4 linked regions of the Homo sapiens genome follow. The protein of the gene in region 4 interacts with the protein of the main gene of each other region in a biochemical or structural test. Each region holds a gene or a part of one and is shown on either strand. Other genes may lie near its edges.

What was found. Proteins that work in one complex are often made in the same cells at the same time.
Region 1: of the proteins of RB1 (region 4) and CCND2, one has a biochemical effect on the other in vitro, tested with the Homo sapiens proteins (4 studies listed by BioGRID).
Region 2: the proteins of RB1 (region 4) and MRPS18B form a complex in vitro, tested with the Homo sapiens proteins (2 studies listed by BioGRID and IntAct).
Region 3: of the proteins of RB1 (region 4) and CDK9, one has a biochemical effect on the other in vitro, tested with the Homo sapiens proteins (4 studies listed by BioGRID, with this or other methods).

Annotation. Positions count from the first base shown.
Region 1 is NC_000012.12:4,280,262-4,283,761, reverse strand, and holds part of CCND2 (G1/S-specific cyclin-D2), read right to left. Parts: intron 1-3,500. UniProt on the Homo sapiens protein: Regulatory component of the cyclin D2-CDK4 (DC) complex that phosphorylates and inhibits members of the retinoblastoma (RB) protein family including RB1 and regulates the cell-cycle during G(1)/S transition.
Region 2 is NC_000006.12:30,620,840-30,623,865, forward strand, and holds part of MRPS18B (small ribosomal subunit protein mS40), read left to right. Parts: intron 1-1,992; coding exon 1,993-2,059; intron 2,060-3,026.
Region 3 is NC_000009.12:127,784,555-127,788,833, forward strand, and holds the start of CDK9 (cyclin-dependent kinase 9), read left to right. Parts: upstream 1-1,479; 5' UTR 1,480-1,594; coding exon 1,595-1,686; intron 1,687-2,146; coding exon 2,147-2,228; intron 2,229-2,963; coding exon 2,964-3,054; intron 3,055-3,392; coding exon 3,393-3,559; intron 3,560-3,659; coding exon 3,660-3,831; intron 3,832-3,989; coding exon 3,990-4,138; intron 4,139-4,279. UniProt on the Homo sapiens protein: Protein kinase involved in the regulation of transcription.
Region 4 is NC_000013.11:48,310,251-48,313,750, forward strand, and holds part of RB1 (retinoblastoma-associated protein), read left to right. Parts: intron 1-3,500. UniProt on the Homo sapiens protein: Tumor suppressor that is a key regulator of the G1/S transition of the cell cycle. The hypophosphorylated form binds transcription regulators of the E2F family, preventing transcription of E2F-responsive genes.

The DNA of each region.
Region 1 (3,500 bases), on a different chromosome or scaffold from region 4:
CAGATAACCAGGAACACCCGACATTCCCGCCTCCCTCCTGGCAAAATGGTGGAGGCAAAGGACACACCTTAGGGGAATCCCAGCTGGACCCACAGGCGCCAGGGGCAGCTCTGCTGTGGGCTGCATGCTTGCTTATGACGGCGGTGATGATGGTGAGGTATTAATAAAAAGGAGCTTGAAATTCATCTGTTTCAAACATCTCCTTTTACAGGTGAATCAATGAAGTCTTGGGAGATGAAGTGATCTGGCTGATGTCACTCACTGTGAGTGTTGGGCCTGGGATCCGGATGAGACTTTGAGACTCTGGATGCAGAGCTCTTCGTAACTTACTGGAAGCTGACCAGCTCCTCAAAGTCACCTCCCATATACCACTCAGGAGGACAGGGCAGCCTTTCACGTCGGAAGTGGGAGAAGAGCCCCAAAGGTGGCGCTCTGGCTCAGGAATCAAAGGAATTGGGTCCCAGCCGCAGCCCCGGCACCAGCAAGCACAAAAGGCTTATCCTCCCAAGGATGCCCTGGGAGCCTCTGGGGGTCCCGCTGGGCTCCCTCACCTGGGCATGGGCCCTGAGAAGTGCTCCATTTCATCAACTTGGTATCTGCACTTCTTGGTAGGATTTTACCAAATAAAGAGTTCAGAGCTAAGTAAGTTTAAAACCACGGAATACATGGTCCTGCCCAGTACATTTAGCACCCATCATTTTGGCTATGGTGGCCGAGGTCTTGGGGTGCAGGGGTGATGGCTTTGCTTCTGTTCACCAATAGGGGGAGAGAGATACGCACTCTGACGCTGAAGAAGAAAGGGAAGGCCAGGTCAGGCTTTCCCCATCTCTCTTCTCCAACCTGCAGTCAGGTGGAAGTTCAAAGGGCCAGAACCAGAGTGTTCACAGGCCAGGGACGTCACTGGGCACGCACCTCATCTGCCACCCCCATAAGAGGACCAGCATACCCTGTCCTTGTGGGGCAGGGCTGCCATGGCAAGGGAATGCCCATGCAACTGCAAGGCCTGCTGGGAGGAGCTGGGGAGGGGGCTGGTTGGAGGGCGATGAGCAGCCTGCTACCCATTCATCTTACAGCCAGAGGGAAGAGCGATGGCAAGCACCACACTGCCTGGCTGCTTGTCCCCACAGGGCATGCTAACGACTCCCCCTCAGTCCCATGACCTCGCGGCTTCAGGGGTAGCTCAGAGACTTGCAGATGGAAAGACGGGTTTCCATTCTTCCTTCCCAGCACCCATCAAGGCGAAATCTCCCACTCTAGATCAAGGGCCAAGTCATCGAACTTCTCTGGGCCACCACTGTCTCCCTCTCACTTGGCGATGGAATCTGAGGGAACACCTGTAGGTAAAGCCAGGGAAGGGGCTAGGACAGCACAATGGGTTCTAGTCAACAATGGGGCTCTGGCCTTGGCGTGGGGAGGCCTGGGGGTGGCTACCGTGTGTGGCACAAATACCAAGGTGCAGCATCTTAGGGTGGGCTTCTAGTGAAGAAAGAGGGGATGTGGGTGCCTGGAGAGGGAGGGTGAGCACCTCCCCCTACCCGGTGCCAGGTGTAAACTCAATGCCATTGGCTCTGCTAGACTAACTGGAATCATCCACCGAGCATGGTATCACATCTCAACAATCTCCCAGTGCCAGAGTGCGAACCCAGGTCATCTCCAATGGCCTTCTTTCCTCGCTTGCAGACCTGGGTGTTCTATCAGCAGAGCGGCAACCAGGGAAGCTATGGCTCAGTTCTGCTTCCCCAGTTTTGGAAACTCCAGGAACAGGAATGCTAGGAGCTGTAGTCAGGAAGATCCCCCGCCCAACCCACCCATGCCTGCACTGCCCAGGACCTGCTGCAGAGGGATACCAGCAGCTTGCGGCCCTTGCTCTTCCAGAAGCCATTTTAGGCTGAGCAGGGAAGGAAGGAGGGCTCCTCTCCGCCTTGCCACCATCTTAATCCAGAGCCCCATAAAGCAAGACCGCCACTTCGCCACACTTACGCGGCCCCTCTATGTTCTCCTGCTCTCCCTTCCCCTTTCACACACAAATACGCTCCCCACACACTGCAGAACCACTGCCAGCTCTTTCACAACCAGCTTTTCCCATCAAATAGCTGCACGGCCTGAGGGTTGGCGGCCATCTCTCGGGACCCCCACCCTCCACCCACTGTGGACCTCCGAGACCCTGGCCGCAGGTGTTTCATCAGCTCCAGGACGGAACATCCAGGACTGCGAGAAAAGGAGGGAAGTGTGCGATTTGAGGAGCAGGTGAGGGCAACAGCTCGGGTTGGGGAATCTGCATCTCCTACCTCTGCCTCTCAGTCACTCTGTGCCCGCTACTGGCCAGAGTCCTGGGTCCTTGCCCATTCATCACACCCTGGCCCCACAATGCACAATCGCCTCTCCATGGAAGGTGTTTCCTTCAAGAAAAGCGGCCTTCGGTGTTTGTACTGTGAGGCCGACTGTTGTAAAACTCCACGCAGCCAGGATTCTATGTGACTCAGTCAGTTGCACAAACCCAAGTGCAGATGAGGGAAAGCAACTTCTTTCGATACAGGCCCCTCCTTTCCAGACCCAGGAAACTGCCGAGGACCTACCTGTGCTCTGCCCTGTCAACGCCTGAGGCTTAGTGCCTAGCACACCATTTTCATGTGGTTTGGGGGTGTCCTTTCCTAGTCCCTGACCAAAGCTAGTTCAAGGCCCCCAAAACACAGTCTTTATAACTGCCTCTGTATCCCTCTGGGCCTCTGTCCTCAGTCTCTGAATCCCAGGCTCCCTACTCTGGCCCCGGAGCTGGCAGCCAGCCCAAAGATCTGGGCAAGAAGGCCACGGGTGGGGGATGGGATCCCCGGTTTTCGAGAATGGGTCTAGACGGAATCTGGGGATCTGCCCACACCCCGGTAACTCCACCCAGCACCCCTACCCCAATCAGAGATCAGAGAGGAGGAAGGGGCAGTTAGACCCCAAAAGATCTGTTAGTCAAGAGACAGTGTTGAGCAGAGCTCTGGCTATCAACAGCTGGGCAGTGGGGGAGTTTAGGGTCGGGGGTCAGCTGTCCTTGGGCCAGAGAGAAAGAACTGGCTGACCCCTCCCCCACAGTGAATCATGATGAGAGAGGAAGGAGACAGCCGAGCCTGGGAGACAAAATGACAGGTCACTGGAGGACTGACCTCTCGGGCCCGGGCCAGACAGCAGAAGGGAAGGAAGCCAGAGTGACCACTATCCAAAAGGCAGCAGGGGTCCACAGGGGTCCTAAGAACCGCCCCCAGGGCTGCAGGAAGGATAACGGACTCTCCCACCAAGGGGCACAGGGCGCATGTGCACGCCATGAGGCCTGGCCTGCATCCAGGAGAACAGGACTACAGAAAACCAGCAAGGGGAAACCTGTGCCCTAGATGAACAGGCAGGGGGCCGGGAGGACTCCACACTCAAGCCTGCAAGTGCAGAACACACAGGTCCTGCTAGAAACACGTAAGGGCAGCCAGAAAAGGAAAGCCATCATATCCACTTTAGTCGGAACA
Region 2 (3,026 bases), on a different chromosome or scaffold from region 4:
TTACAGGTGTGAGCCACCACACCCAGCCAGCGAAATGGCTATTTCTAGTGGGAGAGCCAATATCCAAAGATTCGTTTGTATTCATTACAGTTATTACCAAATATATTGGCCCACTTTCTTCCTGAGGTTTTCTTTATTTCCTTGTCAATGTTCAGTGCCATGCTGGCACCTGGGGCTGGAGGGCAGGTATATGAAGCAAGATAGAGTCCATTATTTTTCAAAAAGCCTTCAATATGTGAGAAGGACAGGATTTGCTCCTTAAAGAATTTGAAAACATATTGGCTGGGTGCGGCGGCCCATGCCTGTAATGCTAGCACTTTGGGAGGCCCAGGCAGGTGCTTCACCTGAGGTCAGGAGTTTGAGACCAGCCTGGCCAACGTGGTGAAACCCTGTCTCTACTAAAAATACAAAAATTAGCCAGGCATGGTGGCAGGCGCCTATAATCCCAGCTACTTGGGAGGCTGAGGCAGGAGAATTGCTTGAACCCGGGAGGCGGAGGTTGCAGTGAGCTGAGATTGCACCACTGCACTCCAGCCTGGGCGAAAGAGTGAAACTCCTCAAAGAAAAACAAAACAAAAAGAATTTGAAAACATTATATCAATAAAACAGATAATGGGAAAGTGTTCTTCTGAGCTTGCAGCAAAAGTATTAGAGCAGAAGCTATATGGCTGATCATCAGGGAAGTAGTAGAGCATTTGGATAACAGTCAGAAAATGGGGGTATTTGACTGCAATAAGAACCCTTCTAACACAGGTTATTTAGGAGTCCCATAGATAATTTCCCAGTTTCAATTGCATATAATTGGTTATAAAAAGAGATTATGGCCAGGTGCGGTGGCTCATGCTTGTAATCCCAGCACTTTGGGAGGCCAAGGTGAGTGGATCACTTGAGGTCAGGAGTTTGAGACCAGCCTGGCCAACAAGGTGAAACGCCGTCTCTACTAAAAATACAAAAAAAATTAGCTGGGTGTGATGGCGGGCGCCTGTAGTCCCAGCTTCTCAGGAGGCTGAGGCAGGAGAATCACTGGAACCTGGGAGATGGAGGTTACAGTGAACCAAGATTGCACCACTGCACTCCAGCCTGAGCAGCAGAGCGAGACTCCGTCTCAAAAACAAAACAAAACAGAGATTATAATTAATTACATAACTGAGAGAGAGAAATGTTACAAATTTAGTAGCATGGGTGATTCTGCTTGCATTCTACTCTACAATGTACCTGCTTTTTTTTCAAGAGTCTCATTTCCTAGTTAATTTGCTGAGAGAGAGTTCTATGTAAATTGTAAAATTATTCTTAGTATATAAATTATATTCAGCATACTATTAAATACATTAGTTGTTTATACATACACATTACAATATCATTTTTTGGGTGATTTCTGGGATTTCCAATGACCAGCCCCAGTTTTTCACCTAAAGGCTGACGTTAGAACTTAACCTCTGCAGCCCAGGCGCGGTGGCTCATGCCTGTAATCCCAGCACTTTCTGAGGCCAAGGTGGGTGTATCACTAGGTCAGGAGTTCAAGGCCAGCTTGGCCAAGATGGTGAAACCGCATCTCTACTAAAGATACAAAATAATTAGCCAGGTGTGGTGGCAGGCGCCTGTAACCCCAGCTACTCGGGAGGCTAAGGCAGAGAATTGCTTGAACCTGGGAGGCGGAGGTTGTGGTGAGCTGAGATCGCGCCACTGCACTCCAGCCTGGGCAACACAGGGAGACTCTGTCTCAAAAAAAAAAAAAAAAAAAAAAAAAAGAACTTAACCTCTGCATAAGAGATTTCTATGGGAGCACAGTGACAGAATATGGGATGTGCAAGGATGGATTCAGTGAATTGATGAAGCCAAACTGGGACATGAAGGAGGATGGCATCTGGAGAGCTGTAGAGGGGTGAAGGTGGTCCATGTGGGTGTGTAGGGATTGTGTACTTTCGATGTCCAAAGATCCTGCTGCTCTCCCTGCCTCTTTTCCTCACGTTTCTCTACCACTTTCCCCCACAGAACGTGAAGCTCTTGGAGCAATTTGTCTGCGCCCACACGGGTATCATCTTCTATGCTCCATACACAGGTTAGCCCATCATCCCTGCACCACCAGAGAGCTTTTCCTTGTGGCATGCCTTGTTTATGTAGTTGGCCAATAGGTATTTGTTCAGTGGCTCCTGCTTATAGCCTAAAAGGTCTGGCTGAACCTTTTGGAAATCTTGGCTTGCTGGGGGCTAAAGTAATTAAATGTGGACAAAAGAAAACAACAAATACAGCCAGGCGTGGTGGCTCATGCCTGTAATCCCAGCACTTTGGGAGGCCGAGGCGGCTGGATCACCTGAGGTTGGGAGTTCGAGACCAGCCTGACCAACATGGAGAAACCCTGTGGTGATGCATGCCTGTAATCCCAGCTACTCAGGAGGCGGAGGCAGGAGAGTCGCTTGAACCCAGGAGGCACAGGTTGTGGTGAGCCAACATTGCGCCATTGCACTCCAGCCTGGGCATCAAGTGAAGCTCCATCTCAAAAAAAAAAAAGGAAAAAGAAAAAAACAAGTACTTCTGTAAGCAAACTATCTAAATGTAGTTTTTAATTGATAAACAGTGATTAATTCCTTTCTATAGGGTCTTTTAACTTTTACAAAAGACTTCTCACAAATTGTCACATAAGTTATTTTATATCATTGTCAATTGGATTAGATTTTCCAAACTTGGAATCGTAAATTTAACAATTCAGAATTATATTTATTCCCTAACTACAGTCACAGGGCAAATCTGGCCCACTGTCACGTCCATTTGTTTTCATATTTTCTGCAATTGCTTCCATGCTACAATGGCAGAGTTGAGTAGCTGAGACAGAGACCACAGGACCTGCAGAGTTTAAAATATTTACTATATGACTCTAGACAGAAAAATTTTGCTAACCCCTGCTCTGAAGCAAGACAAATTTGCAGAGAATAATTTTTTGTTGTTTTTTTTTTTTGAGACGAAGTTTCACTCTTGTTGCCCAGGCTGGAGTGCAATGGTGCAATCTTGCCTCACCACAACCTCTGCCT
Region 3 (4,279 bases), on a different chromosome or scaffold from region 4:
CGGGGCAGAGGAGGCAGAAAAGACGGCTTTGCTGGAGGCTGTCCTTGGGCAGAGCTGGAGGGGGAATCTGGGGGCCGCTGGAGCCAGGAAGATGCGAGGGAAGGGATGGGCGCGATGGGGGAGGGAGATGGGGGGGGTGAACGGTGAGCTCGCGCCTGCATAAGGACAGCAGGCCTCCCCACTGCTATCCTCCTGGCCCAACAGCGAATAGCGTGAGTCAAGAGAATCCCCTCACTCAGACACCCAGGTTCGGGTCCCAACTTTGTCGCCGTGTGACCTTGGGCAAATGACCTCACCTCTGAGCCTCAACGTCTTCTTCTGCAAAATGGGTTAGTGATCCTGACTATGGGGCTGTTGATTCAGGATTCGGCGGGAACGCCCAGCACTTCCTGAGTACACAAGAGTGCTGAGAAAATGGTAGCTGTTTTTTGCGATTACTGACTCGGGGCCCGACCAGCTCTGGCACGACTCAGCGGAGGTGGGAGTCCTGCGGGTCCCATCCCTGCCTCCCGGAGAGCCAGACCCCAGCGATAGAAGGCCCGGGCGTTGCTTGCTCGTCGCCGCTAGTGCCGCCGCGCCCCCTGGCGGCCGTCGGTTGCCATGTCAACGGAGGGTGGCGGGGACCGGGGGAGGCGGAGGCGGGGGCCGTTCTCTCCTCCCAGGGCCGGAGGACGCTCCCTCCGCGCCTCCCGCCTTCGCCTCTGTGGGGGCACTCCGAGCCGGGGAGGAAGGGGCTTTCCGCTGCAGCCGACATGTGGGGGTAAACTGAGGCACGCGGCAGGGCGCCCGCAGCCAGGTGCCGAGCGCGGGGCCCCACCTCCGAAGGCGGAGGAGGGGCCGCGGGCGGTGACGCGCCGAGGGCGGCCGGCGGACAGCGAGCGGGCGGGCGGTGGCGGCGGCGGCAGGTGCGGCCGCGGAGGGTGGGAGGGAGGAGGGCGGGGGCGGGCGGAGGAGGAGGGGAGGGCGAGGCCGGGCACCTCCCCCTTTATAACGCGCCCCCTCCTGGGCTCTCGGGCCGTCTCCTAGTCGGCTCTTCCCGTCTCGCCCCCTCGCCCGGCCGCCCCGGGCCCGGGTCCGGCCAGGGAGCTCCCAGGCCGCGGCTCGGGGGCTGACCCCCCGCCCGCCGCCCCGCGCAGCCCGGCGGAGGCGGCGCCGTCGGAGGAGGAGGAGCAGGGCACTGCGGCTGGCCCCGGATCGGGCGCCAGAGCGGCAGCAGCTTCGGCAGCAGCGGCGGCCCGGGCCCATGCAGCGGGACGCGCCACCCCGAGCCCCAGCTCCGGCGCCCCGGCTCCCCGCGCCCCCGATCGGGGCCGCCGCTAGTAGTGGCGGCGGCGGAGGCGGGGGCAGCGGCGGCGGCGGCGGAGGCGCCTCTGCAGCTCCGGCTCCCCCTGGCCTCTCGGGAACTACAAGTCCCAGGGGGCCTGGCGGTGGGCGGCGGGCGGAAGAGGCGGGGTCGGCGCCGCGAGGCCGGAAGTGGCCGTGGAGGCGGAAGTGGCGCGGCCGCGGAGGGGCCTGGAGTGCGGCGGCGGCGGGACCCGGAGCAGGAGCGGCGGCAGCAGCGACTGGGGGCGGCGGCGGCGCGTTGGAGGCGGCCATGGCAAAGCAGTACGACTCGGTGGAGTGCCCTTTTTGTGATGAAGTTTCCAAATACGAGAAGCTCGCCAAGATCGGCCAAGGCACCTTCGGGTAAGGCTGGGCCCCTCGGGGCCGGGAGCCCTGGGCCTGCACCCCTAGGGCCGACGTCGGGATGCCCGGGCCCCCCCCGAGTTGGTAGAGAAGTCGTCTGTCCCCGGGCTTGCCTGCTGGTCTCTAGGCCGCGCCGCACCCCGCCCCGGCCTGACGGAGCCGGCTGGTGGGGAGGAGCCTGAGGCCCGTGGTGGGGGCGGGGAGGGGCTGCAGAGAGGCGCCCGTGAGGGGAGCGGGATCTCTCCAAGGGACGCCCAAGTGAGGAGAAGGGACTGAGGGAAGGAAGCAGAGGCTCCGAACGAGACAGGCTGCCGGGTGGCGGGGTAGCCGCGTGCCCTGGGTACCTAGCCCAGCCCCGCCCGGGAATCTCTTTGCTGCTGCCCCTCCTCCTGTAGTGGGGGAGGGGCGGGCCCTGCGGAAATGGCCTGATGAGTTCTCGGGTCTCCCTTTCCGCCTGCAGGGAGGTGTTCAAGGCCAGGCACCGCAAGACCGGCCAGAAGGTGGCTCTGAAGAAGGTGCTGATGGAAAACGAGAAGGAGGGGGTGAGTACGGATCGGGCGTGCGGGCCGGCCGGCTAACTGCCCGGGACCCCGGGTCGGTTTTCCACCCTGCTGCTTCTGGGAGTCTCAGGTTGAGATTTAATTTTTTTGTAGTAGTTCAGAAATTTCCAGGGAATGTGGCTTCCACCCTAAAACTAAATGTTTCATTCTTAGGCAGTTATGGGTGAGGCCAGGAGGGGGAGTTGATGCATGCATCGTGTGCACTTTATTTCACGAAGTTAGGAAGCCTTTAAACACCTTTTTTTAGTGTTAAATTTCGCTTAATGTAAAAGAAAGATTATATATGCATGCTTTTTGAAAGGTGTCTGATACTCAATTATTTAATGTATTTAAAAGGAGCGGTCCCTTCTCCACCCCATCTTAGCTCTAGTACAACTTCCCATAAACCTTCTTTTGCGTAATGTGCATTAGCAAGGACATTTTTAAATCATCATGTTTGTTGCCAACGAAACAGCCATAGAGCTGAAATTTGAAGACTGAAACCGCCGAGCGTTTAGTGGCTAATAGCAAAGTATTGCTGTTTCAGTTTGTTGTCTCAAACCATCATCTTGAAGTGTGCATGCTACTAATATCCATTTTATAGACAAGGCTTCTGAGACAGCTGGTTTCAGAGCCCATGATCTTGCTCTGTCTCCCAACTTGGCTGTCAGTACAGACCCCAGGGCTGGGCTCTGTACTGCGCTCACTCTTGACCACTTTCCCCTCTTTCTCACCCAGTTCCCCATTACAGCCTTGCGGGAGATCAAGATCCTTCAGCTTCTAAAACACGAGAATGTGGTCAACTTGATTGAGATTTGTCGAACCAAAGGTAAGTTATTTGGTTCTTACGAGAAGATGACACTTGTAGCCTAAGGTTTTGTTTGTAAACTTGGAACTAGGCACACCTAAACTGCCTCTTCTTAACTCAGATGGACCCATGGTGACTGCTTTTTCTGGTCCTCTTTCATCGTAGCTGGTGCTTCCTCGGGGCCTGCCCTGGCCCAGAAGAGGCACTCAGAAAATATTTGACCGGTGAAGGAAGGAACAGACAGATGCTCTGGAGGGCATGGGTGCCCGTGGGTTGGAGCAGGAAGAAAGAAGCTGGTTGTGGGAAAGTGTGTTGGGTGTGGTTTTCTTGACTTTTTCTTCTTTCTATTCCTGCCTCAGCTTCCCCCTATAACCGCTGCAAGGGTAGTATATACCTGGTGTTCGACTTCTGCGAGCATGACCTTGCTGGGCTGTTGAGCAATGTTTTGGTCAAGTTCACGCTGTCTGAGATCAAGAGGGTGATGCAGATGCTGCTTAACGGCCTCTACTACATCCACAGAAACAAGGTGGGGGCCAGAGCTGGGAGGAGGACCCAGGCTTGGGCTGGTCTTGGCTCCCACTCCCGGGTGGATGTCACTAAAGGACCCACTCTTGCCCTTCCTGCAGATCCTGCATAGGGACATGAAGGCTGCTAATGTGCTTATCACTCGTGATGGGGTCCTGAAGCTGGCAGACTTTGGGCTGGCCCGGGCCTTCAGCCTGGCCAAGAACAGCCAGCCCAACCGCTACACCAACCGTGTGGTGACACTCTGGTACCGGCCCCCGGAGCTGTTGCTCGGTGAGGACTCCCGAGCGGGCCAAGGGGGGTGAGGGCCAGGCATCTACCTGGCCCCTTCCCCCCAACTGCCAGGGCTTCTTGAGCTGCCGGCCCTGGGGCATTGAGCCTCAGGAGGCCCTCGGGCTCAAGGGGCCCTCCTGGTGCGCTCTTCTTCCCAGGGGAGCGGGACTACGGCCCCCCCATTGACCTGTGGGGTGCTGGGTGCATCATGGCAGAGATGTGGACCCGCAGCCCCATCATGCAGGGCAACACGGAGCAGCACCAACTCGCCCTCATCAGTCAGCTCTGCGGCTCCATCACCCCTGAGGTACGGGGCCCCGGTCCCCACGGGGTGCAGAGATCGAGGTCCCCCGGCAGAGGAGGAGTGGGGAGTAGAATGGAAGGAGCGCTCCTCTCTGGAAGGGAGGCTGGTTTGGTGACAGGGCCTGTCTTGGGGTGGGGAGTGTGT
Region 4 (3,500 bases):
TAAATGTGTTTCCAGTGCAGCTATTCTAGTGGCAGTTGTCTCTCTTCTTTGAAACAAGAGGAGGAATATTGTCAAAAAGGAAACCCTTTTTAACAATAGAAAGTAGGTGATGTTTATTGGGATAGAGGATGGGTTAAGAGCAAGGATTAAGAGTCAAACAGATATACCATGTCCGAACTCCATTATCTTGAACATGTTATCTACAATTTTCAAGCCTTAGTTTTCTTACCTGTAAAAGGGACTGACAGTAATTTCTGGATCTTGGAGTTATGTGCAGATTAAATAAATTAATGCATATAAAGCTCTTATTAGAGTCAATGAGTATGTATATTAGGTCTTGCAAACAGAATAATTTTACTTAAGAAATACCCCAGAAAATTTTATCATTGATGTATTTTTTTTTAGGAGAACTTAGGATATCAGTTAAAATGGTTACAATTTTAAATGCATTGTAGTGATTTTGATGTAGTAATGTTTGTTAAAATTCTTATTTTTAAGTACTTTAGCATCAGAAAAGTTGTTTATGCATACATGAAAGCATATATTAATCCCTTTAAAGGAAAAGTTTGTGGTATTTTGTCTAGAAAAGTGTTTTCTTTTTTTAAAATAAATATTTAGTAAAGTGTAATAATAAAGATTAGCTTTGTTCATAAGGTTAGATTGTATTTATGCTGATTATAGCATATGAATAGGACTTTCCATTAAGAAATTGGCTAAGGTGATGTTCATATTGTGACTTAAGGTGAATCAGCTGTTAGAATTTTGGTTTACTTTCTGCATCTTGATTGGTAGTATGGTAGAATGGAAAATGCCTTGGACCTCAAGGCAGGAAACTTTGGTTGTAATTATATTGTAGCTATATGATTTTAGGCAAATTGGTTAATTCTGTGAGTCTCAGTTTGCTCACCTGTAAGGCAGAAATAATGCCTGAATGTGAACCTCATAGGCTTTTTGTTATACATACATATATATGTATATGAAATGTATGATATACATATCTCAAAGAGCTTTGGGATATATTGCTCTTGATAGAACCACTTACTTATTTTTGTGATATGGTGGTTATATTTTAAATAAATACAGTCATGTGTTGCTTAACAATGGGAACACATCTGAGAAATGCATCATTAGGTGATTTCATCGTTGTGTGAACATCATAGCATGTACTTACACAAACCTGGATGGTATAGCCTATGACACACCTATGCTGTGTGGTATATAGCATGTTGCTCCTAGTCTGCAAATGTGTACAGCATGTTACTGTACTGAACATTGTAGGCAATTGTAACACAATGGTAAGTATTTGTATATCTATACATAGAAAAGGTACAGTAGATCATCCATATCCTTACTGATTTTCTTTCTATGTGTTTTACTAATTATTGAGGGAGAAATATGAAGCCTCCAACTATAATTAGAATGGTCCTTTTAAATTCTGTTTTTTATTAATGTATTTTTTATTTTATTTTATTTTGAGATGGAGTCTTGCTCTGTCACCCAGGCTGGAGTGCGTGGCACGATCTCGGCTCACTGCAACCTCTGCCTCCCGGGTCCAAGCGATTCTCCTGTCTCAGCCTCCCGAGTAGCTGGGATTATAGGCATGCGCCACCACACCCGGCTAATTTTTGTATTTTTAGTAGAGACGGGGTTTCACCGTGTTAGTCAGGCTGGTCTCGAACTCCTGACCTCATGATCTGCCCTCGGCCTCCCAAAGTGCTGGCATTACAGGCGTGAGCCACTGTGCCTGGCCTTTATTAGTGTATTTTAAAGCTTTATCCTTGGGTACATACAAGTTTAGAATTTTTATGCCTTTTAGGTAAATTGGTACCTTTATCATTATGTAATGTGCTTTTTTATCCAAATTTATATCTTTTGTTCTGCAGTGTCCACATATCGATTCCACTTTTCTTGTGATCACTCTTTACAATGTGTATCGTTTACCTTCATTTTGATTTTAACCTATTTCTTTTTTATATTTAAATGGATTTTTGTTGTTTTGTAATCAGCATTCATTAAAAATTTTTAGCTGAATACTTTTTACTTTTGTTAGGGTTCCCTGTGTCTCTTCCTTTCATGTTGTGCCACAGATGAGCCATTATTTATATCTTTTCTCTCATTGGAGGTTCCTTTTTTTAGGGGAAATTAAATAATCTGAAATATAAGGAAAGGATATGTTGATTTCAAGAAAGGTTGTTTTTGTTCCTTATCTGGCTTGTTCTTGTTGTGAGGGTGGGAGCAATACTCTTTGCAGCTTTCTGCATTCTAGGAAGAAGTGGAATTTTACACTACCATTTGCTTTCTTTACAGGTTTACCTTGGTATTCAGTGTCTGTCCATAGGACTAATTAAAACTATACCAGACTCCTTCTATTTTAAACCTATCCGTTCAGTCTCAAGTTATCTTTTTGCATTGCCTCTCACGTCTGTCCCTTCATTTCTTTTACCAGCAGTGCTTGGTTTTTACTGTTTGCTTTGGTTTTAATTTCCTTTTTATTTTTTTAATTTCAGAAGGTGGAAGCTTATGTCATTGACTTGAGCATTTTTTATGCATGTTTTAGTGCCTCTTTCTGACTAGTCTCTTCTTTTCTCCATCCAATCCATCCTGTGCCTGATTTTTAGAAAAGACTGGTGTACAGTTTGCCCCTTTTGCTTTAAAATTTATTTTTCATTGTTACAACCCACTCTCAGTAGCCTCCATTGTAACACCCTCCCATGCTCCCACCACCATTATGAAGAAGTAAAGTCCAAACTTTCTCAGTATTTGTAGTTCTTCATGGTCTGTGCTTTAACCTTCCTTCCAGTCTTATTTTTTATTTCCATTGTTGGCCCCCAATGCCTGTGTTCTCTTCCCTTCCATATGAATCTTCCATATGAATATCTTCCATATGAATATGATAGTATTCATATTCATGCGATCTCCCCTTTTTTTGGAATACCCTTCTTTTTTCTTTTAGCCTAAATTCTGTTTTTAAGATGCAGTTAAAGCTTCTCCTTTATGCATATCTCTTATAAGATATATTATTTGCAGACTTTTCCCCCCATTCTGTGAGTTGCCTTTTCACTTTCTTGATGATGTCATTTGCAGCGTAGGATTTTAATTTTGATGAAGTCCAGTTTTCTATTTTTTTTTTGGTGGTGGTTTTTTTTTTGGTTGCTTGGGCTTTTGATGTTGTATCTAAGAAGGCCTTGACTAACCCAAGGTCATGAAGACTTATTCTGTGCTTTCTTCTAAAAGTCATATGGTTTTTAGTTCTTGTCAGTCTTGGGTTTTTTTTTGTTTTTTTTTTTTGAGTTAATTTTTGTGTATGATGTGAGGAAGAGGTCTAACTCCAGTCTTTTGAATGTGGATATCCAGTTGTCTCTGCACCACTTATGGAAAAGACTATTCTTTCTTCATTGAATTGTTTTGGTGCCCTTGATGAAAATCAGTTGACTATAAAAACCAGGGTTTATTTCTGGAGTCTCAGTTCTATTCCATTGCTCTGTATGTTTATTCTTTTT